Regions from separate parts of the Homo sapiens genome. Here all the other regions are linked to region 1. The links come from fine-mapping of genetic effects on plasma protein levels. Region 1 holds a variant in brackets. A gene starts in each other region. All regions are shown on their forward strands.

Region 1 (4,118 bases):
TTATTATTATTGTTTTTTGAGACAGAGTCTCACTCTGTTGTGCAGGCTGGAGTGCAGTGGTACGATCTCAGCTCACTGCAGCCTCTGCCTCCCGGGTTCAAGTGATTTTCCAGTCTCAGCTTCCTGAGTAGCTGGGACTACAGGCACGCACCACCACACCTGGCTAATTTTTGTAATTTTAGTAGAGACGGTTTCACCATGTTGGCCAGGCTTGTCTTGAACTCCTGACAGGTGATTGACCCACCTCAGCCTCCTAAAGTGCTGGGATTACAGGCATGGCCACTGCGCCTGGCCAGTTATTTTGAACCCTATAACAATTGGCAGATCCTTTTATTCTGCCCCTGCTAGAGATGAGGAGACAGAGGTTCAAAGGAATTGTGCAACTTGCTTAAGATCACACAGCTTGTCAGTGAATTCAAACCTAAATTCAGAAGATCCCAGAGCTCTTTCTACTCCATGGCATGGATCGTTAAGATCACCTCTGTGAGGTACTGGCCTCCTCACCTAGGAAAGGAGGAAGATGATGAGGCTCATGTCACCAAGGAGAGCGTGCTGTGCCCTCAAGAAGTGCATGAGCTTCTGATGCTTCCAGAATAATCTCCGGGATGCCCCCCCGACTGCCTCTTAGGGGGTCAGGCTCCATGATGGGGGTGTCTGCCCTGTGGCCCTGGCTGCCTGTGGAGTGTCAAGCCAGCTGTGTGTCCGAGAGAGAGAGAGATTGTGTGTGTGTGTGTGTGTGTGTGTGTGTATGTGTGTGTGTGTACATATGCAAACAAGGAGGGCAGAGCTGGGGCTCAGGGCTGACCATATTTTTCCTCCTACCTGTGAGGGCAGATGTCTTACTGTGTTTTGTTTTGTTTTGCTTTTGAGACGGAGTTTTGCTCTTGTTGCCCAGGCTGGAGTGCAATGGCATTATCTCAGCTCACCGCAACCTCCGCCTCTCGGGTTAAAGCGATTCTCCTTCCTCAGCCTCCCAAGTAGCTGAGATTACAGGCATGCACCACTACACCTGGCTAATTTTGTATTTTTAGTAGAGATGGGGTTTCTCCATGTTGGTCAGGCTGGTCTAGAACTCCCAACTTCAGATGATCCGCCCGCCTCGGCCTCAAAGTGTTGGATTATAGGCTGAGCCACTGCCCCCAGCCAGATGTCTTCCTGTTAAAATGGGGCTTTAAATTCCTCACCTAACATCATTGTTTGCAACAACAGCAACAAAGAGCTTCCATAGACAGAGTCAGTGTCCCAGAACGGGGACTAAACAACCAAACATCTAGAATCTCACCAGTCAGTGACCCTGAAGGAGACCTCAGTCACAACCTTTGTTGGAGAGCAAGTGGAACTAGGGTTTTTTAAAGCCTGAAAGCACATCAGTTGTGCCCTAACAATGAAAGGTTTCAGAGTAGTTGAAAGCTAGGAATTTGAATATCTTAGAGGAAGTTAAGTGGCTTGAGGTGCTTCCACCGAAGGTCTCAGCACCATGAGAATGCCTGTGCTTCTGCCGGCCCCATTCCTGCCAGTGAGCCCACAGACAAGGGGCGATGAAGAACCAGGAAACAGATGGAAAGAAACGTGGAAGAGAGGAAAGCCTCAGACTGTCAGGGTGAAATCTAGGTTGAGAGTTAAGTTTTAGTTCATTCTTTGGAGAGACTGAGCCACAAGGAGCCATAATTACAATAGCGTTTCAGCACATCCAGGTGATCTTGGTCTGCAGTATTTGGTTGAGGACTGTGTGAAAGCAGCTGAGGCCAAATGTGGTGGCTCACACCTGTAATC[T/C]CAGCATTTTGGGAGGCTGACTTGGGTGGATCACTTGAGGCCAGGAGTTTGAGACCAGCCTGGCTAATATGGTGAAACCCTGTCTCCACTAAAAATACAAACATTAACCAGGCATGGTAGTGCATGCCTGTAATCCCAGCTACTTGGGAAGCTTGAGGCAGGAGAATCGCTTGAACCCAGGAGGCAGAGGTTGCAGTGAACTGAGATGGTACCACTGCACTGCAGCTTGGGCAACAGAGAGAGACTCCGTCTCAAAAAAAAAAAAAAAAAAAAAAAAAGCAGCTAAGGAAGGCTACTATGGTCACAAAAGACTTCCCAGAAGATGGGACTTGGGCTGGATCTTGATAGGGAAGATTTCCATAAGGAGAGAGGGCAGGACATGGGTGGAACAGGTGCACCAACAGTAGGGCACCAGGGATGAGAGAGCTGCTGGTTAGGATTATGGTGAGCACCACAGACCACAGACAAACCAGAATAAACGAACCTGTGGACCAGCGTGTCCTGCACTGAGACACACACCACGCACACCAACAGGGACGAAGCACGTTGCCCACATTGTATCGATGTATGCGAATGTGGATAAGTCAGCTCATTTTCTCCTTCCCCTCCCCACAACCAAGTTTACTGCTGCTCCTGGCTCCCCCATCCTGGGGAATAGCACATGGTAAGAACCTCAGCACCCACTCCACTCCTCTCGCCCTCATCTCCACACAGCTACCTGTCAATTCCACCTTCACACTCTTTCTGCCAACTGAGCCCTCCTCATCTCTCTGCCTCTGGCCTGCCTCCCCACTACAACTGAGTTTCCATGCAGTTCTCAGAGGAATCCCTCGAAGGCACATGTGCAACCTCATCACTTCCAGGCTGAAAGATCTTGGTTAAGAGAAATATTAGTACAAGCTATTAAGACTTAGGAGGCTGCCGGGCATGGTGGCACATGCCTGTAGTCTCAGCATTTTGGGAGGCCAAGGTGGGCTGACTGCTTGAGCCCAGGAGTTCAAGACCAGCATGGGCAACATAAAGAGACCCTATCTCTACAAAAAAAAAAAAAAAAAATTAGCTGGTGCCTTAGTCCGTTTTCATGCTGCTGATAAAGACATACCTGAGACTGGGCAATTTACAAAAGAGGTTTAGGCCAGGTGCGGTGGCTCATGCCTGTAATCCCAGCACTTTGGGAGGCCAAGGCAGGTGGATCACCTGAGGTCAGGAGTTCGAGACTAGCCTGGCCAACATGTTGAAACCCCATCTCTACTAAAAAATACAAAAATTAGCCAGTCGTGGTGGCACGTCTGTAATCCTAGCTACTTGGAAGGCTGAGGAAGGAGAATCGCTTGAATCTGGGAGGCGGAGTTTGCAGTGAGCCAAGATAGCACCACTGCACTGCAGCCTGAGTGACAGAGCTAGACTGTGTCTCAAAAAAAAAAAAAAAGAAAAGAAGTTTAATGGACTTATAGTTCCACATAGCTGGGGAGGCCTCACAATCACGGCAGAAGGCAAGGAGGAGCAAGTCACGTCTTACATAAATGGCCGCAGGCAGAAAAAGAGCTTGTGCAGGGAAACTCCCGTTTTTAAAACCATCAGATCTCGTGAGACTCATTCACTATCAAAAGAACAGTGCAGTAAAGACCTGCCCCCATAATTCAGTCACCTCCCACCAGGTTCTTCCCATAACATGTGGGAATTGTGGGAGTTACAATTCTAGATGAGATTTGGGTAGGGACGCAGTGAAACCATATCAGTCAGGCATGGTGGCATGCACCTGTAATCACAACTACTCAGGAGGCTGAGGTGGGAGGATCAATTGAGCCTGGGAGGTCGAGGCTGCAGCGAGTTGTGATTGTGCTACTGCACTCCAGCCTGGGTGACAGCGAGACCCTGGTCTTGGGGAAAAAAAACAAGAAGACTTAGAAAGCTACAGTGATGAAAACAGTGTCATACTGGCACACGCATACAGAGATCAATGACACAGAATATACAGTAGTTCAGAAATAGCTACTTACAGTTACTTAGTAGTAAAAAGATGACTGGCAGGATGTATTTGTGCCATATATGATAGACAAAATGTTAATTGCCTGGATACATATAAAGCACCTACAAATCAATTTCAGAAAGACCAACAATCCAATAGAAAAGTGAGCCAGAGACATGAGCAGCTAGTTCATAGCAGAGGAAACATGCATGACTTCATCTAGGCAGAGATGCTCAAGCTCACTCGTAAAAGAGAAGCAAATTAATGTGGTAGTGAAATGCCACTTTTTCGTCTCTCAGATTAGCAAAGCTAAAAAAAAAATCCTGAAACTTCTACTGGTGAGGGTGTAAGGAAACTCAGACATGACAGGTAGTGG
Region 2 (4,118 bases), not on the chromosome of region 1:
GTGGTAAATATGAGGCATAGAGAAATTAAGTGACCTGTCCAAAGTCATTGCCAGGCTGAGCTCAGACTTTGTGCTGTTAACCTCTAGTTTATAACCCTGAGTGACACTCAAAGGTGGCCTACTCAACTCTCTCTTAAAGAAATAACTTGCTGGCCAGCGGCAAGGAGTGCAGTTAGCTGACAGCCTCTACTGATAACCTCCTCGGGCTCTGCTTCAGCTTTCAACCAGAGACCATGTTGTTTCTGAGGAGGCCCAGCTAAGGACCGAGCACGGTTGGGGTAGAAGAGTCTGAACATTTCTGCCCACCATGGGCCCCTCTAATAAACAGTCTTTCCTCTGGAGCTCCCCACTGAGCTGTTGTAGACTTCACCAGATCAGCATTGCAATCTGAGGCTCCCCCTGCCCAATTCAGCCTCCTTCCTCCTTCTGTCTATCGCAGGAGTTGTTCTGAATAACCTTCTTTTACTCCAATGTCCATCTCAGCATCTGCTTTGCAGAGGACACAACTGGCACACCCTGCCTTCATATATTTGGATTGCCATCATATAGAAGACTGTTTAGAATTGTTTTGTGTTGTGATAAGGGGTTGAATTAGGACAAAATTCAACCCCTTATCACAACACAAGCATAAACAAACTGCTAGGGAAGCAGCTTTCACATATACATAAGGAAGAACATCGTAACAACTAGAAGTGCCAAACAATAGAATAACCTGCCTCAAGATCAATGAGTGCCCTGTCACTGCGTTCAGGCTGACTGGAGAACTGCTTTTGTGTGAAGGTTGTGTGGCATTACCACTCCTCCACTTCTACCCCCATGAATACTGAGGCACCTGGGATGCTAAACATCCACAATGCTAATTGATTAGCAAAAACCAAATTGTTTAGGAAATCGCGCCAGGAAGCCCAAACCTCTGATTTCTTAGCAGATCAGTGGGTCTGGTTTGATACATCATCCTTGTCCACTTCCAGGGCAGTTTAGTGGTACTCTAGGCCAGACTAGCCAGTCTACATACTTTTTTTTTAATCAAAGAGCTTCTAGAAAATGGGATAAGCTGTGGGCTGATTGTCCCCATGGACTAGTTGGTGGGATCAAAACCTAACTTCACATATGTTTATGTCAGACTGTAATATGGGGTTCACCCTCTAATGCAGTTCTAATGACTCCCTCCCCTGCCACATGGTTCTCAAGCTCATGGACTTGCACACGACAGCCAGAGAGATTCTCTTCCTCAAGGCTGTTGTCTCCCTCCCTTCATGCAGACACAGGCACACAAAGCAGGGGACTCCTACTGCCCCCTTCTAAGAATTCCATGATGGTCAGATTATATAAGTAATCATATATTTCAGATAGCAAAATAAGAGATGGAAAAGACTGGTAGGAAAATCAATAGCATAATCAGCGTTAGGATCTGTATATAAAGAGACATTCATTTGCTGTGCAAATATTTACTGAGCACCTACCAAAGGCCGGAATCCCTTCCACATGCTAGGGACGTGATGCGCTCGACGGAGTCCCCAATGTCATGGAGTATATATCTAATGCCACTGAGAAACCTGGCTCACCCTGCACTGAGAGAAGCACTCAAAACCACCATCACCAATAGCGCTACTAAAGACAGTGCTTTGGAGCTTCCAAGCTGATAGATTATCCTTTCTCCCCACCCTCAGATTTCTCCAGTGTCTCTGGCACTTATAGTCCATGTTTGCAAGAAATATTTTATTATAGTGCTCTGAAACAAATTTATAAAGTTTGCAAGAGAAGTTTTAAAAAAGCAAGCTCAGCAATATTTGGGGGCTTTTAAAGCTGATGATGCAGCTGACCTACTGGAGACAAAGGCAGTGGGAGGGCCCTTACTGGTATAAATAAATAGGAGTCTCTGGTACTGCAAACCCACAGCCTGGACTCAGAGCTCAAGTCTGAACTCTACCTCCAGACAGAATGAAGTTCATCTCGACATCTCTGCTTCTCATGCTGCTGGTCAGCAGCCTCTCTCCAGTCCAAGGTGAGAAATTTCATTTACATTTCACTGTTTGTTGAACAGAAATAGTCTTTAACCACTTCAATTTTCTTTCGATTAAAAACCGCAGGGAAGTCTGACTAAAGGGGGAAAAAACTGCTCTGTTCCTTCTAGATTTCTCAAAGTAAGGTGTTTAGGAATTTAACTCTTCAAAACTGGAAGTATTTATATTGTTAAGATTTTTATTTATAGCAAAAAGAGATACCACAAGTCCAATATTCATGTGAATTATATATTCCCAGCCTTTTTCTGATTCAGCTCCTGCTATATATAATTCTTTACATGTAGCTCTTCTTTGTTCTGCCTCTCAATGTTACCCACTCTGACCAAACCCTATACAGGGTTTAAAGATTATTGAACTCTACTGGTCTCTTGCAGTGAACATGCTTCATGTAACTCCAAATGGTTAGATCTGACATCAAGTACACCACTGTCAGTACACCAGGGGTATTTACACACATTCTGCAAAGAAGCAGACTTCCATGTCTAAGTGGGGCAGCTATCTTTGTGTCAATAGATAAATATCCAGTTGAAGTAGTAAGTTTTTATGTGGCCGAAGAAATGGATATGTGCAGAAAGAAGCCTTCTGCTCAGATTTAGAAGGCCAAATTTTTGTTCTTAAAACACAGAGGAGCTTTGTCCCCCAGTTTTAATTTTGCTTCACATGTTATTTTCACTCTTCAAAACCCTAATTTCTTGCATTCTCCACGGGGCTTTCCCATGGCTCCCGGCAGAGGTAGCTCTTAGTACATCTTCTGTTCTCAGCATGCATGTTAGATTTTGAGCGTAATACAACCTTCTGTGGTATTTTAGTTTTTGTTTGCTTGTTTCCCCTACTAACTTGTACACACCTTGAGAGGTGAGCCTTTTTATTTATAAATGTATGTCAAGCACAGTAGTAGGCTGGATAGAAAAGATCTGATAAATGTCTTTGGCTTAGATTTCATTAGATCCCATTAAAATTCATGAGATGGATACTAATGGTACCCATCCAGTATTAATTGCTTTTGTTAAATAAAAAGACTTTTGAATTTTTATGATTGCCTTTTGTTCTGTAATGATTTGCAACCCAGACAGAGGACCAACATATCAAACAAAAACGTCTGTGACATTTTCTGAGAGGAAAGGGGAGGATGGCAGAGAGTCTGATAGAGAAAACTCTGTTCCAGCATGTTATTGCTCCCAGGACTCTTGAGCCAGGTCATGTCCTCGGTTTTTATGTGTTGGGAGTGAAGATAATCCACTGGTTTTATATTGCATTAATTATAACTGAGTTGTAAGTCCCTACAGAGGCTGTTCTCAAATTTTATTATGTGGACTATCACCTGAGTACAAATATAACACTATCACAAATTTCAAAATTGCTGTGTTTTTTTGAAAGCTAATTTTTGTTTTGTTTTCTTTTTGCTTTGTTTGTTTGCTTTCTGAGATGGGGTCTCCGTTTGTTGCCCAGGCTGGTCTCAAACTCCTGGGTTCAACCAATCCTCCCACCTTGGCCTTCCAAAGTGCTGGGATTACAGGTGTAAGCCACTGTGCCTGGCCTAAAAGCTAACTTTATTTTTAAAGTTTTGGTAGAAAACATTTGAAAATACTCAAGCCAAGACAAGCAGAAATATACAAACTAAAGACATATGGGTGGAAGCACTGACTTGAAACTTTTAAGTCTTCAAATGCACGTTATGAAAGATTAGTAATTAAATTCTAGTTATGAATTACATGCCAATGGATTAAAATAACTGATTCTGTGTTTACTTACAGGTGTTCTGGAGGTCTATTACACAAGCTTGAGGTGTAGATGTGTCCAAGAGAGCTCAGTCTTTATCCCTAGACGCTTCATTGATCGAATTCAAATCTTGCCCCGTGGGAATGGTTGTCCAAGAAAAGAAATCATGTAAGTTTCAAGAGAAAAATAAATAAGATTTCCTTCTCCCAATGAAATCAGATCAAATGTTACCATACAGTAGTCTTACTCAAGAATGTCGAAGAGATTTACTTGAGTGTTGCTAAAAATTCTCAAACTAATAATGAAAATTGTTAATAATTAAGAGCTTAGTTTGCAGCAGCCCTGAGCTAAGTGCTTTACATGCACATACTCATT
Region 3 (4,118 bases), not on the chromosome of region 1:
CAATCTCGACTCACTGCAATCTCTGCCTCCTGGGTTCAAGCAATTCTTGTGCTACAGCCTCCTGAGTAGCTGGGACTACAGGCATGTGCCACCTCACCTGGCTAATTTTTGTATTTTTAATAGAGACAGGGTTTCACTGTGTTAGCCAGGCTAGTCTTGAACTCCTGGCCTCAAGCCATCAGACTGCCTTAGCTTCCCAAAGTGCTGAGCCTTAATCTACTGTTTAATCTGTACACTGGGCTTCTATTTTCAAAAATTATGTTTTTACATAACTGCTTGCTTTTTTTCCCTCAATCTTCCTGGTCACTTTAAATAGTCTCTTGTTCCTTATCTATACTTTCAATTACCAACTTTTAATTCTTGAAGCATATGAAACATCCTTATTTTATATTATATATACTGCAATTCCAACATCTGAGATGTGTTCGAAGGTCTGCATTTTTAGTTTATTGCTTGGTGCTCCTCTCACCTAAAGCACCTTGTGTCCTGTGTTTTATGATTTTTCTGTTTTACAAACATGTGAACTCATGTTCCATGGGAGTTTTTCTGTGGGATTTCTTTGAGTCATGAATATAGGATGAGTTACTCCAGAGACAATTTTTATCATTTGTTTCTGCCACGTGCCTAAGGAGCTATTATTTACCTTACTTTAAATTCTTATCTTATCTTTTTGTTTGTTTGTTTTTTGTGTGGTTGTTTTTGCCACAAAGTCACCATGAGTTTCACCTCCAGGCCTATTAGTGGGTAGACTTGTGGTGAGGGGCATTCAGGGTTGACATTTATTTTTCTCCCACTCAGAGTCCATACTGAGTTGGGCAAGCTCTGTGTCAGCTCGCTTTAAGGAATTTTTCTCTCCGAGTTCTCCACTGTGGATGTTGTATTTCAGTGCTCTTTGTTTAAGGCAGAAATTTTGGATTTTGTTTTTCACTTCGATTTTGTTTCTCAGCTTTAACTTTTGTCCATGTTCATAAGACTGAAGCTCTTGGTCAACTGGATCAACAGATACTTCTCTGCTGGCTGTGATCTCTTTGGATTTTTGTTGTCTTTATATATTAACATATACAAGGTCTCACTCTGTTGCCCAGGCTGGAGTACAGCAGTGCAATCTTGGCTTATTAAAGCCTTGACCTCCTGGGCTCAAGCGATCCTCCCACCTCAGCCTCCTGAGTAGCTGAGACCGCAGGTGTGTGCCACCAAACCTGGCTAATTTTTTGCACCTTTTGCAGAGAGAGGGTTTCACCATGTTGCCCAGGCTTATTGTCGTTTTTGATCTCTGATGATTTTCTTCATTTCTCACCACCTCAGCTACACATTTTAAAAGATGGTTTACAATATTTTTGTGGTGTTTTGTATTAGGAGAATTCTTCAGCATCTGCTGTCTACCATATTGTCAGAAATGGAGTCTAGCCATCCTTCCCGGCCCATTTCAAACGGGTTCCTCTTAGGACCAGGAGACCTCACATTATGTGTGTCCTACCTTGGCCTGTGGTTTGGTCACTTGTGTGTGTGTGAACTTCATCCTCCTTGAGGGCAGGAATATGGTTTCCTCTCTTTCACTTCCACAGAGTCCTGTCCAGAGTTCTGCACACCAAGACTGTGTAAATGAATGGAATTGCATCTGGGAGCTCGAGGCACCCATGCAAACCTGTGCTGCCAGTGACTTCCACCAGAGGGCAGCGGCAGCAGGTGCCGGCGCTGGGGCAGGACTGGGAGGAGTCTCACTCTGGGGGCGCCTGGTTCCCCGTGGCTCTAATACTTGCCGCATCAAATGCATACACCCACATTTAGGACCGAACCCAATGGAGGAGGACCGCTCCTCATTCCACATGTTGGGGAAATGAAGACAAGCAAGGATGCAGGAAGTGGAGGGCCAGGAGAGGTGGACCTGGGATGGGACCAATTGAGGCAGGGCCAGGATTTGGAACCAAACCCCTTCTGGATTTGACCACTTCCAGGGCCCTGCTTGGACAACCAAATTATCTATTCCTTTTCTCATTCAATAAACATTTATTCACCTCCTACCATATGCTCCACAGGGAGTACCATGGGAATTAAACACGCTTGGCCCCTGCCTTCTTCCTATAGCGTCAGTCTGCTGCAGTGCAATGGGGCAACTCGGGGTTTCTCAGGCAGCCCTGGGCTTCCTTCCTTCAGCCCTTTGCTCCTGCTATTCCTTCTGGCCCAGAGGCCTCCCATGATTGCTGTTTGTCAAAATCCTGCTCAGCCTTGTAGACCCAGCTCCCATGCCTGACTCCCACGGAGGCATGCCCAGTCTGGTACCTGGAGATGGGATAGCTGGCCCCACTGTGCCATCTGACGGGGCGGCTCCCACAAGGCCTTGGCACCCTTCCCTGTAGAAGGACTTGTGGGATGGCCATCTCTCAGGCCCTTCCCAATTTATATTTCTCTGAGGGGAGACTTAGGCTCTTATCTCCAAAAGTGCATCAAGACCACACCCTCCTTCCCAACCACCATTGCACCTAAGGTTAAGATAAAACTCAGGATTTAATCCAAGAGAGCCAAATTACACGGACCGGGACAGGCAATGGGTCATTCACTCCCTCTTCCAATATGTACTGATTGAGCAGCTACTACATTATCAATTTTTTCTTCTGGGCCACCAGAAATGAGGCATGGCTCTTCCACTTCCCTTCTTCTTAGAAGACCCTCGGGGAAGTGTGTCTGCATGGATGCGTGTGCATGCGTGTGTCTGGCTCCGTGACTCTTGGGGTGCAGCCTGGATGGGTGGGCTCCCAGCACAGGCAGCTGGGGCTCTCCCCACCAGCCCCTGTAACAGCAGCCCAGCTTCCTGCAGACCAAAACCACAAGCAGAACAAGCAGGCGTGAGACACTCACAGGTTGGGTTTGATCGCATGCGTGTCGGAGAGGAGAGAGCAGAGAGAGACACAGGAACAAGAACAGCAAAGGGTAGAGCAGACCTGCGCCAGGGGCGCACAACGGCCGTGTCCACCTCCCGGCCCCAAGATGGTGCTTCCCACAGGCAGCCACGCGTAGCAGCCAGAGACAGCTCCAGACATGTGGCTCTTCTTCGGGATCACTGGATTGCTGACGGCAGCCCTCTCAGGTAGGCCCCCTTCCCTCATCTCCTGCCACTGGTGCTGGAGGAGCCGGGTCCGGCCCTCTCAGTCCCCTTTCTGGTTGTTTCCTTGTGGTCACTTTTCTAGGATCTTTTAGCCAAGACTACACTCAGGTACCAGGGAGGTCCAGCATCTGGGGCTAGGAGAGGACACAGGAGCCCCTCGAGGGGCTGGGGCTGTGCCTGGAAGCCTCCTGGAGTGACAGAATGTGGGAAGCATGCTTTGTGCCTTACCAATGGGTCCCTAGGGTGTGAGGAGGGAGGTGCCTCTCCCATCCTTAAGCTCAGGAACTCCCCCATTTCCTATTTCTTGCCAACTCTTAAGAAGGAACCGTTCACCTTCCAGAGAGGCAGGACCACTGATGGTGGTACTTTCAACGCCAAAGCTGAGGCTTGGGGTCCAGCAGGCGTAGGCCAATCACAGGAGAGCACCTCCCGAAACAGGACTCAGGGAAGCCAGGGAGAGTTCTGGACAACCAGGCGCTGATGGCCTCAGCACAACCAGCTGGGGTAGTCTAGGGCATAAGCGAGCATGAAGGCCACCCCCACGTCTCAAGCTGCCCCCAAGTGTCAAGGCACCTGGCCACCTGGGCCAGGGAATCAGATGGCCAGAAGGTTTGGGGCACTAGACTGTGCTCCCCAGATACTTGCTGGCCCCTGTTGAGTGCAGGGTCCAAGCTGGCCAGAGCGGGGCAGGGGCCTGGAGATGCAAGAGATCCTGACCCCATCGAGCTCTCACATTTTGGGATTTGGGAAGACTGGTATGGAAACAGAATTCGGGCCAGGGGAGTCTGGGTCCACCTTGCAGCCAGAGAGCCAAGTGCTTTCATTTTGTGATGGAGGAGACCCAGGAAGACCCAGTCAGGAGGGGGCATCGAGCTGGTTTGGAGGACTGGGTACATGTCGCGAGACTCTGGGCAGGGAGTGCTCTCCTCTCTGCCTTGATCTCCAGGCATGTGTTCCGAGCCTGTGGCCTCATACTGGTTCAGGGAAAGCCATTCGGCTCTGGGAACTGGAGTTT
Region 4 (4,118 bases), not on the chromosome of region 1:
AGTTTCTTTATCTGAAAGACAGAACCGCCGTCTCCAACCAGTGGCCAGCGTGGTGTCCTGGACCCCACCCCACTCCGGTCAGCTTTCTAATTTTAACACGAGACCCCCACGGGGCTCCTCTGGGCTGGCCCCCAGGTCTCCTGAGCCCCAGGGCTTCCCAGCAGAGCCTTCCCCAGGCAGGGCTGGGTCGGACCCTGGGGTGCCTCTGAAGAAGGAGAGTGGAAGTGGCTTGGACCCCCCCACCAAGCCCAAGCCAAGCGGGACCCCCACTCCAGCCCCAGACAAACAGCAGGGACCGAGGGGAGTGGCCACGCCTAGACTCTGTGTCTGTCTGAGGCCCCCTCCCCTTCCCACGGCCACACAGCACGCCGGCACACTCCAACATGCACGCACAGTCCTCAGAGATCCCCACACACAGGCTCACACCTGCACACGTGCACACGCGGGCCCAGCGCCTGGGCGCTCCCTCCTCTGCCCGCACACTCCAACCTGCACGCACAGACCTCAGAGATCCCCCCTCAGACACTCACACCTGCACACGCGCACACGCGCACACGCGGGCCCAGCGCCTGGGCTGCTCCCTCCCCCTCAGGTCGCTTTGGTGCTGGTCCCCCTCCCTCCCCGCCGAGGCCACTTCCACCCTGAGAGTTCCAGAGCCTGCAGAGGAGGCGGCGGGTACCAGGGTTTTCCTCTGGGGCTTTGGCGCCCCCCACGCTGCTCTCAGGAGAGGGAACAATCTTTGGGGTGCAGGTGGCAGCTGGGGCTCACACTGACCTGTGTCCTCGCCAGCACACACGCCACCCCCAGGCCCAGCCCGAGGAGGAAGGAGATCACCGCCAGGGCCGCAGGGAGGGCAGAGGCTGCTGGCGGGTCAGGGAGGGCAGAGGCTGTCTGCGGGTCAGGGAGGGCGGAGCCTGTCGGTGGGGCAGGGAGGGCAGAGGCCCTTGGTGGGGCGTCCGAGCATCTGTGCCATCCTTGGGACTGTTCCTCTGAGAAGGAAAAAAGAAGGAAGGGATTCTCCCGGTGGAGAACCTGTTAGAGCCCCCGGGGTTTGGGATTCGGGGCAGGGAAAGGCTGTGGAGGGGAGGAGGGGCAGCTATCTAGGAGGCTGCTGGGGGCAGTGGGCTGGGAGCTGGAACAGTTCAGGCACATGTAGGAGGGAGGGTCCCACGACAAGGGCTGGGGGAGCAGAGCCTGGCCAGCAGCTGGGGTTGGGAGGGGGGTCTGGGATGGGCACATTCCCTACCTGTCACCAGGACCAGGGTGCCGGAGCCGTAGACATTGACCTCCGTGATGGCCTGGCAGGTGTAGGTGCCAGTGTCCGACAGCTGCAGGCGGTGCATGGTGATAGTCAGGTTGTCCTGGGACCCTGAGAAGTCGATGCGGCCCCGGAACCGTCTGTCCGTAGTGGGCACCACCCCGTCCTCGTAGTAAATGATGTCTTGGGGCTGTGGCCCGAGCTGCCTCAGGTAGATCCCACGCAGGCCCCCGCTGGTGGAGCAGGTGATGTTGACGGAGGCTCCCACGGGGACAGTCGTGCAGTGGGGAGACTGCTGCACCTCTGGGGAGGACCTGGGCTGTCACCATCAGTCTGGCCAGAAGGACAGAGAATGTCCTCCCTGCAGGGGACAGTGGTGGGGATGGTGGGGCCCTGAGACAGCCCAGGGCTGACATGTCGCCAAAGACACGGTGCCTTACGGGGCATGGAGCAGATCTGGGCACCGGCTGTGGTGTTGGGGGAGGTGCTGTCCTCGTGTTCCGAGACTGTGGGCTTCTTCCTCCCAAAGCAGCGGCCCTGCCTGGACAGCCCCGGCCACTCCCCACCGGGGTCCACCCTTTTTCCTTCTCTTAAATGAGTCCTCAGACACTGGAGGCCGCTCAGCACCCCACCCGCTTCCTGGGGGCTGTGCTGTGGCTCAGACTGGGGGCTCTGAGCTCATGGGGCAGGGAGAGCTCTGGAGCTGTGGCCATGGAGAGCCTGGGAAGCTCTTACCTTGGGCAGCCAGGGCCCCAGGCAGGCCGCGAGCCAGCGCCAGAAGCAGGGGCAGCAGCAGGAGCCTCGGAGGCCCGGCCATGTTCCCCACACCCAGCTCTCCCAGCCGGGCGAGTGCAGCTGAGCCTCTCTGGGTCTACAGGACCCCACAGAGAGCAGCACACAGGAGACCGCAGGCGCTCAGAGCTCAGAGAGGGCTTCCTGGAGGCGGTGCCTCAGACCAGGGTGGTGCTGTGGGCCCGGTGGGAGGGGCGGTCTCACCTACCCCTCCCCAGCACTGCCTCCCTGAGAGCTGCCCTGAGAGCAGGGCGTCCCTGTATCCCCCACTGCCCCTGCATCTCCACAGGGAGGAGGTCAAGGCCTGGGGCGGGGCAGACCAGAGGACAGAGAAGGGACTCCCTGGCTGGGGACGGGTGGCAGGGTCTGGAAGTGAGCGGCAGAGCTGGCCCCCAGCCTGCCTGGTCCTCTGGGGTACTTTCTGCTGGGACCCAATTTATGCCCAGAAATCTGGAGCCACCCATGACCCATGAGTCACCCACACAGTGCAGAGGAGCACAGGGCAGGCCAGAATTGGCACCCCCTGGTTTGGCCGTGGGGAAGGAGCCTGGGCCTGCACCCGCACCCAACGCTGCAGCCGACCAGCTGACCGTGGCTCTGCGTTCCATGTCCTGGAGGCGGGAGGTCTGAGGTATGGTCCAGGCCTGAGGTTTCCCGACCTCCCTGGGAGGAGTGCGTCAGGCCGCAGTGCCCAGCTTCAGGGGCTGAGGGAGACCTGTGCCTGGGCTCTGACCCCAGGGTGACTGAGTCCTCTGGGAGGGGGCACTTCTCTGTCCTGAGGGCCTCCCGCCACAATGACGAAGCGTTGACGTTGGTGCCCAAAGCCAGTAGGTGCAGCACATGAGCAGGAGTGTGTGGACACGTGTGTGTGCAGAGACGGGTGCGTATGGACATGTGTGTGCAGAGACGGGTGCGTGTGGACACGTGTGTGTGCAGAGACGGGTGCGTGTGGACACGTGTGTGTGCAGAGACGGATGCGTGTGGACACGTGCGTGTGCAGAGGCGGGTGCGTGTGGACGTGTGTGTGCAGAGACGTGTGCGTGTGGACGTGCGTGTACAGAGACGGCTGTGTGTGGACACTTGTGTGTGCAGAGACGGGTGCGTGTGACTCCATGCGTGTGTGCAGAGACGGGTGCGTGTGGACACGTGTGTGCAGAGACGGGTGTGTGTGGACACGCATGTGCAGAGATGGGTGCGTGTGGACACGTGCGTGTGCAGAGACGTGTGCGTGTGGATGTGCGTGTGCAGAGACGGGTGTGTGTGGACACGTGTGTGCAGAGACGGGTGCACTTGACTCCATGCGTGTGTGCAGAGACGGGTGCGTGTGGACACGCGTGTGTGCAGAGACGGGTGTGTGTGGACACGCATGTGCAGAGACGGGTGCGTGTGAACACGTGTGTGTGCAGATGGGTGCGCATGACTCCACGCGTGTGTGCAGAGACGGATGTGTGTGGACACGCGTGTGTGCAGAGACGGGTGTGTGTGGACACGCATGTGCAGAGACGGGTGTGTGTGGACACTTTGTGCAGAGACGGGTGCGCGTGACTCCATGCGTGTGTGCAGAGACGGGTGCGTGTGGACACGCGGGTGTGCAGAGACGGGTGCGTGTGGACACGTGCGTGTGTAGAGACGTGTGCGTGTGGACGTGCGTGTGCAGAGACGGGTGTGTGGACACTTGTGTGTGCAGAGACGGGTGCGCGTGACTCCATGCATGTGTGCAGAGACGGGTGCATGTGGACACGCGTGTGTGCAGAGATGGATGTGTGTGGACACGCATGTGCAGAGACGGGTGCGTGTGGACACGTGTGTGTGCAGAGATGGGTGCGCATGACTCCACGCGTGTGTGCAGAGACGGGTGCGCGTGATTCCACGCATGTGTGTGCAGAGACGGGTGCGTGTGGACACGCGTGTGTGCAGAGACGGGTGCGCATGGCTCCACGCATGTGCAGAGACGGGTGTGCGTGACTCCACACGTGTTTGCAGAGACGGGTGCATGTGAACACGTGTGTGTGCAGAGACGGGTGTGCGTGACTCGCGTGTGTGCAGAGACGGGTGCGCGTGACTCCAC
Region 5 (4,118 bases), not on the chromosome of region 1:
AACCCACCCCAGACCTGATGAATTCATAGGGGCTTAAGAATCTGCACATTCTATAAACTCTCTACATGATTCTGTTGCAAGCAAACGTTAGAGAGTGAAAAATCCAAACCTTTTATTTTATAGATTAGGGAAACAAACAACTAAGCTGTAAAAGAGAACCCCCTGCCCAACAAGTGAGACCACATAGTAGGCATGATTTTACACATTACAATTTTTTTTTCTCCAAAATAAAATTTTTTAAATCCAGCAATCAGGGTGGATATATAATCTTTTGTATAATTGCCTATGAAGCCACAAACAAGTAATACATATGCCAGTAAAGTTGGTACAGCTGACCTACACCTAAAAATAGCCCAGAAATTCAAAGACCAAGTTTTCATTCCAAAATTTTTTATTTTGGAGAAAATAGAACGCATATCCTTTGTTCAAAGAGACAGCTAAGGAACAACACAGGACTTCAATGAAAAATATGTTGTTTATGTGTGTAGTTACTAGTCAGTATGCCCCACCTAGCCACAAATTAGTGTGGTTACTCTAAATTGCTAACATGAAAATCTTAACCTCCTACTTCTGAAGTTATTTGGTTTTAGCTACTCAATTTTTTTTTCTAGGCTTCCAAGGTTGCTGTTTTGGGCATGGTTTTAGAAATATAATTATAAGTTTGATTTCAAACTTCTGGACCATGTAATCAAGCACAGACTGGTCATAGTGGAAAATATACAATTTTTAGCTCTGCCTACATTGACAAAAAAAAAAATGGCTGGATCCACATCAATTCAACTTGAGTGCCATGTGTTTACAGTGACAGTTTCTCCCCGAAAACGCAAAAAAAAAAAAAAAAAAAAAAAGAAGATCCATGCTGCTGTAGTATATGTACATAGGGGTGTTTAAAGCCAGCCCCTCCAGCAGCACCTTACCAACCATGTCTGTGCTTTTATTTATTGATCCAATAAGATGACTTAAATATCTAACTCCTTTTCCACGTAAAAGTTTTTATTATGTGCAATGCATTGTTAAACAGGTGAAGAATGAACAAGTTTAGAAAAACAAAGAAGCTTAACATGGAAAATTACCCGCATGGTGTCCACTTTTCCTGCTCGGTTGCAATACCCAATGGATTATTTATTAATTTAGATTTGTGCTGTCCCTGAATCCAAACAGCAGCCTCTTTAGAGTAACATCTGCTCCAGACATTGCTCCAGGAATATAAATCCCGACTAAGGGGTGGATATTTAAAGCTGTAAATGATTTTTTATTTTTACAATAGCTTTGCAAAAGGAACGGAGGTGTCATGTCATCATCAGAGTTTTCTTAACAGGATTTAATCTTAATGCCAAACTAAATCCTTTGTCTAAAGCATCAGCAGAGTTGTACTTATTTTCCCCATAGTATTAAAGAGGAGGGCTGGTGCAGGCACAGCCATATGACATTGCCTTATTTATTTTGTCTGTTTGTTTTCTGGAAGAATCTAGGAATGTGCATAAATACAATTAAGGACAGTATCTACAAATTGGAAGAAAGCATTTCTATTCTCTTAAACCTCTAAATCAAAGCACTTAATGTTCTGATTTCCAGCAAGACCTTCTAATAAATGAAAACCCAACCCTTGGGTTTGTGTTTTGACTCTTGATACAATTATGAAAGACGCATCAGGAGATGGCAAGTGGCTGCCAGTACTTCCTTTTTTCTGGAATATTCTCTAATTCTTGGTGGATCAAGATGGAAACTGGTAGGCTTGGAATAGATGTCCCTTTAAAAGGCTCCACTAACAATACAAGAATATTTTTTCCATACGCAGTGACGTGGGTGGGTCATGGGTGTCTCAATGACAGTAACGTTCCCGAACCCCGGACCTTAGCTGTCATTTCACCTGCGTCGTCCCGGACGCCATTTGGCTGTTGACGTGGTTCCGAGCCAGCAAATAACGCCAGCAGCCCTCCCAGATCCACGCCGGCCCGTCTCTCCGCCGGCCCCCTCCTCGCAGTGGTTTCTCCTGCAGCTCCCCTGGGCTCCGCGGCCAGTAGTGCAGCCCGTGGAGCCGCGGCTTTGCCCGTCTCCTCTGGGTGGCCCCAGTGCGCGGGCTGACACTCATTCAGCCGGGGAAGGTGAGGCGAGTAGAGGCTGGTGCGGAACTTGCCGCCCCCAGCAGCGCCGGCGGGCTAAGCCCAGGGCCGGGCAGACAAAAGAGGCCGCCCGCGTAGGAAGGCACGGCCGGCGGCGGCGGAGCGCAGCGATGGCCGGGCGAGGGGGCAGCGCGCTGCTGGCTCTGTGCGGGGCACTGGCTGCCTGCGGGTGGCTCCTGGGCGCCGAAGCCCAGGAGCCCGGGGCGCCCGCGGCGGGCATGAGGCGGCGCCGGCGGCTGCAGCAAGAGGACGGCATCTCCTTCGAGTACCACCGCTACCCCGAGCTGCGCGAGGCGCTCGTGTCCGTGTGGCTGCAGTGCACCGCCATCAGCAGGATTTACACGGTGGGGCGCAGCTTCGAGGGCCGGGAGCTCCTGGTCATCGAGCTGTCCGACAACCCTGGCGTCCATGAGCCTGGTAAGGGCGCTGCCCCCTGACAGCCCTGGGGGCATCCCGGAGGGGGGCGGCAGAGGGTGGGACTGGTGGCGGTGGGGGAAGGAGGGAGGGATGGGCCCAGGGGTGCCTCTTGGTAAAAGGTATCTAAGGTGGAAGGTGGGAAGTGGAGGGAGGGATGGAAATGGGGAAGAACCCGACTTAGAGCGCCAGTGGCCCAATTTCTGCTTTCCCGTCCCATCCCCCCAGCACCAATCCCATCTCCCCAGACCTTAGGCCACCCTCTAGTAAGTATAGGCTTGGGAGGCTGGGGTGGCGGGGGATGGGGGGGATAGCAATACAGAAAAAACAAATCCTGACGCACGCAACCCCAGCGGTCGCTCTCACTTTGCTGTGTGAAAAACCCAAAGGAATGATTGCGAGTCCCCCGCAAGGGGGGTTGGTCTTCCTTGCTGACAAGAGTAGAAAGATAAGGTGCAGAAGGCAGTGATTGAGAGGAAAGGAGAACGAGGGAGAAAGAGTCATTTATCATGTTTTCTCTAATTTCCAGAGGACCAGTTTATTGGCTCTGTGTACCCATCTCTACCTGTGTGTGTATACGTATTAGGTACACTCGCTGCTGTGGATGCTTGGGGAATCTTAGGGATATTGCCAATCTGGGGTGGTGGTGTATAAAGATACGTTGGTGCCCCTCCTCCTACCAGGGTGAAAAGTGGTTTCTGACTTTTGAAACCAGATTTTGAAACTGCACAAGGCCTTTCCAAGGAAAAAGGAGTATTCCATTTTCTCTGCTATAACCATTTGAGATGAATAGTTTGTGATGGGGTCTTTATTCCAACTGATGTTCCCAAATAACCATCTGTATTCGTCTTTCCTAGGAGTATATTAAAGCACCTTTTGGTTTATGTTAATTGTGATGCATTTAGTATTAATAAAGAGGTATTTAAAAATGTTCTTGGGACTTTTTTCGTTATGTTTCTGCTTAGGAAATAATTTGGGCCTGGTCTTCTGATAATCAAGGTACAGCTAAAGTAATCTGTGCTAATAATATCAGCATGGGATGGATGCTTAATTTTTGTTTAATGACAAAGCAAGCAAGAAAAGTAGGCTAAAAATTCTCAGTGCAGGGCCAGTATAGTTTTATAATGATACGTAAGAACCAAACTGAGAAGAGATTAAAATAAGTGATCAATAGACATTTTGATCTTCAAATATATAGTAGGTGGGTTGATCAAGAATAAATCTTCAGGAAATATTTCTTACCTTCAAATAATATAAGAAAAAAAGGTTCATGTAAGTTTGCTGTCAAAATTCTAAGATCAGATCCTAGAAAACATTTAATATTAACTACTCTTATCTACCAGGATTCAGCATGTAGGATTGGACATTTTGAAACTTAGTTTCATACTGTTATCTGAAGACAGGGAAAAATTTAAAATGTGATAACTGATTTTCAGCTAAATCCAATAACCAAAGCCAAGATATCCTAGGCACAGTTAAAGCTAATGTAAGTATTTGTGAGTCTCCTGCTGCTTACTTAATGAGAACCCTTTGTTACTCTATTTTGTAGATTGATCCCAGAGTTTTTTGCGTTGTTACTTC

Alleles and levels. Positions count from the first base shown, and alleles are read on the strand shown. Strength reflects both the effect of a copy and how common the allele is.
As copies of C replace T in region 1, the plasma level of the protein whose gene starts at base 1,896 in region 2 goes down (weak association).
For the plasma level of the protein whose gene starts at base 2,851 in region 3, T is the high allele of the variant in region 1 and C is the other (moderate association).
As copies of T replace C in region 1, the plasma level of the protein whose gene starts at base 2,188 in region 4 goes up (moderate association).
For the plasma level of the protein whose gene starts at base 2,020 in region 5, C is the high allele of the variant in region 1 and T is the other (weak association).

Evidence for each region. A credible set is the group of variants that fine-mapping cannot tell apart. PIP is the posterior inclusion probability: the model's chance that the variant is causal. The UK Biobank Pharma Proteomics Project read protein levels with antibody pairs (Olink). The fine-mapping took linkage between variants from a reference panel, not from the people measured, so its PIPs are less certain.
Region 2: CXCL13 starts here. The variant in region 1 is the best candidate, but not a certain one, in a credible set for the plasma level of the CXCL13 protein (UK Biobank, PIP 0.60).
Region 3: it holds the start of CD6, and the variant in region 1 is the best candidate, but not a certain one, in a credible set for the plasma level of the CD6 protein (UK Biobank, PIP 0.77).
Region 4: CD7 starts here. The variant in region 1 is the best candidate, but not a certain one, in a credible set for the plasma level of the CD7 protein (UK Biobank, PIP 0.57).
Region 5: CPE starts here. The variant in region 1 is the best candidate, but not a certain one, in a credible set for the plasma level of the CPE protein (UK Biobank, PIP 0.68).

The regions. Positions count from the first base shown.
Region 1 is chr12:111,760,573-111,764,690 of GRCh38, forward strand. No RefSeq gene overlaps it. Among named protein-coding and RNA genes, the nearest start is that of ALDH2, 4.3 kb to the right of the region's middle. RefSeq lists an enhancer at 1,092-1,627. The variant T/C (reference allele first, on the strand shown) is at 1,774.
Region 2 is chr4:77,603,925-77,608,042 of GRCh38, forward strand. It overlaps CXCL13 (C-X-C motif chemokine ligand 13), which reads left to right and starts at 1,896. Exons shown (of 4, transcript NM_001371558.1): 1 at 1,896-2,005; 2 at 3,779-3,911. The coding sequence starts at 1,942.
Region 3 is chr11:60,968,830-60,972,947 of GRCh38, forward strand. It overlaps CD6 (CD6 molecule), which reads left to right and starts at 2,851. Exons shown (of 13, transcript NM_006725.5): 1 at 2,851-3,085. The coding sequence starts at 3,037.
Region 4 is chr17:82,315,421-82,319,538 of GRCh38, forward strand. It overlaps CD7 (CD7 molecule), which reads right to left and starts at 2,188. Exons shown (of 4, transcript NM_006137.7): 1 at 1,994-2,188; 2 at 1,247-1,561; 3 at 775-989; 4 at 1-11. The coding sequence starts at 2,075.
Region 5 is chr4:165,376,989-165,381,106 of GRCh38, forward strand. CPE (carboxypeptidase E) reads left to right here and starts at 2,020. Exons shown (of 9, transcript NM_001873.4): 1 at 2,020-2,540. The coding sequence starts at 2,234. RefSeq lists a silencer at 2,053-2,312 and an enhancer at 3,792-4,118.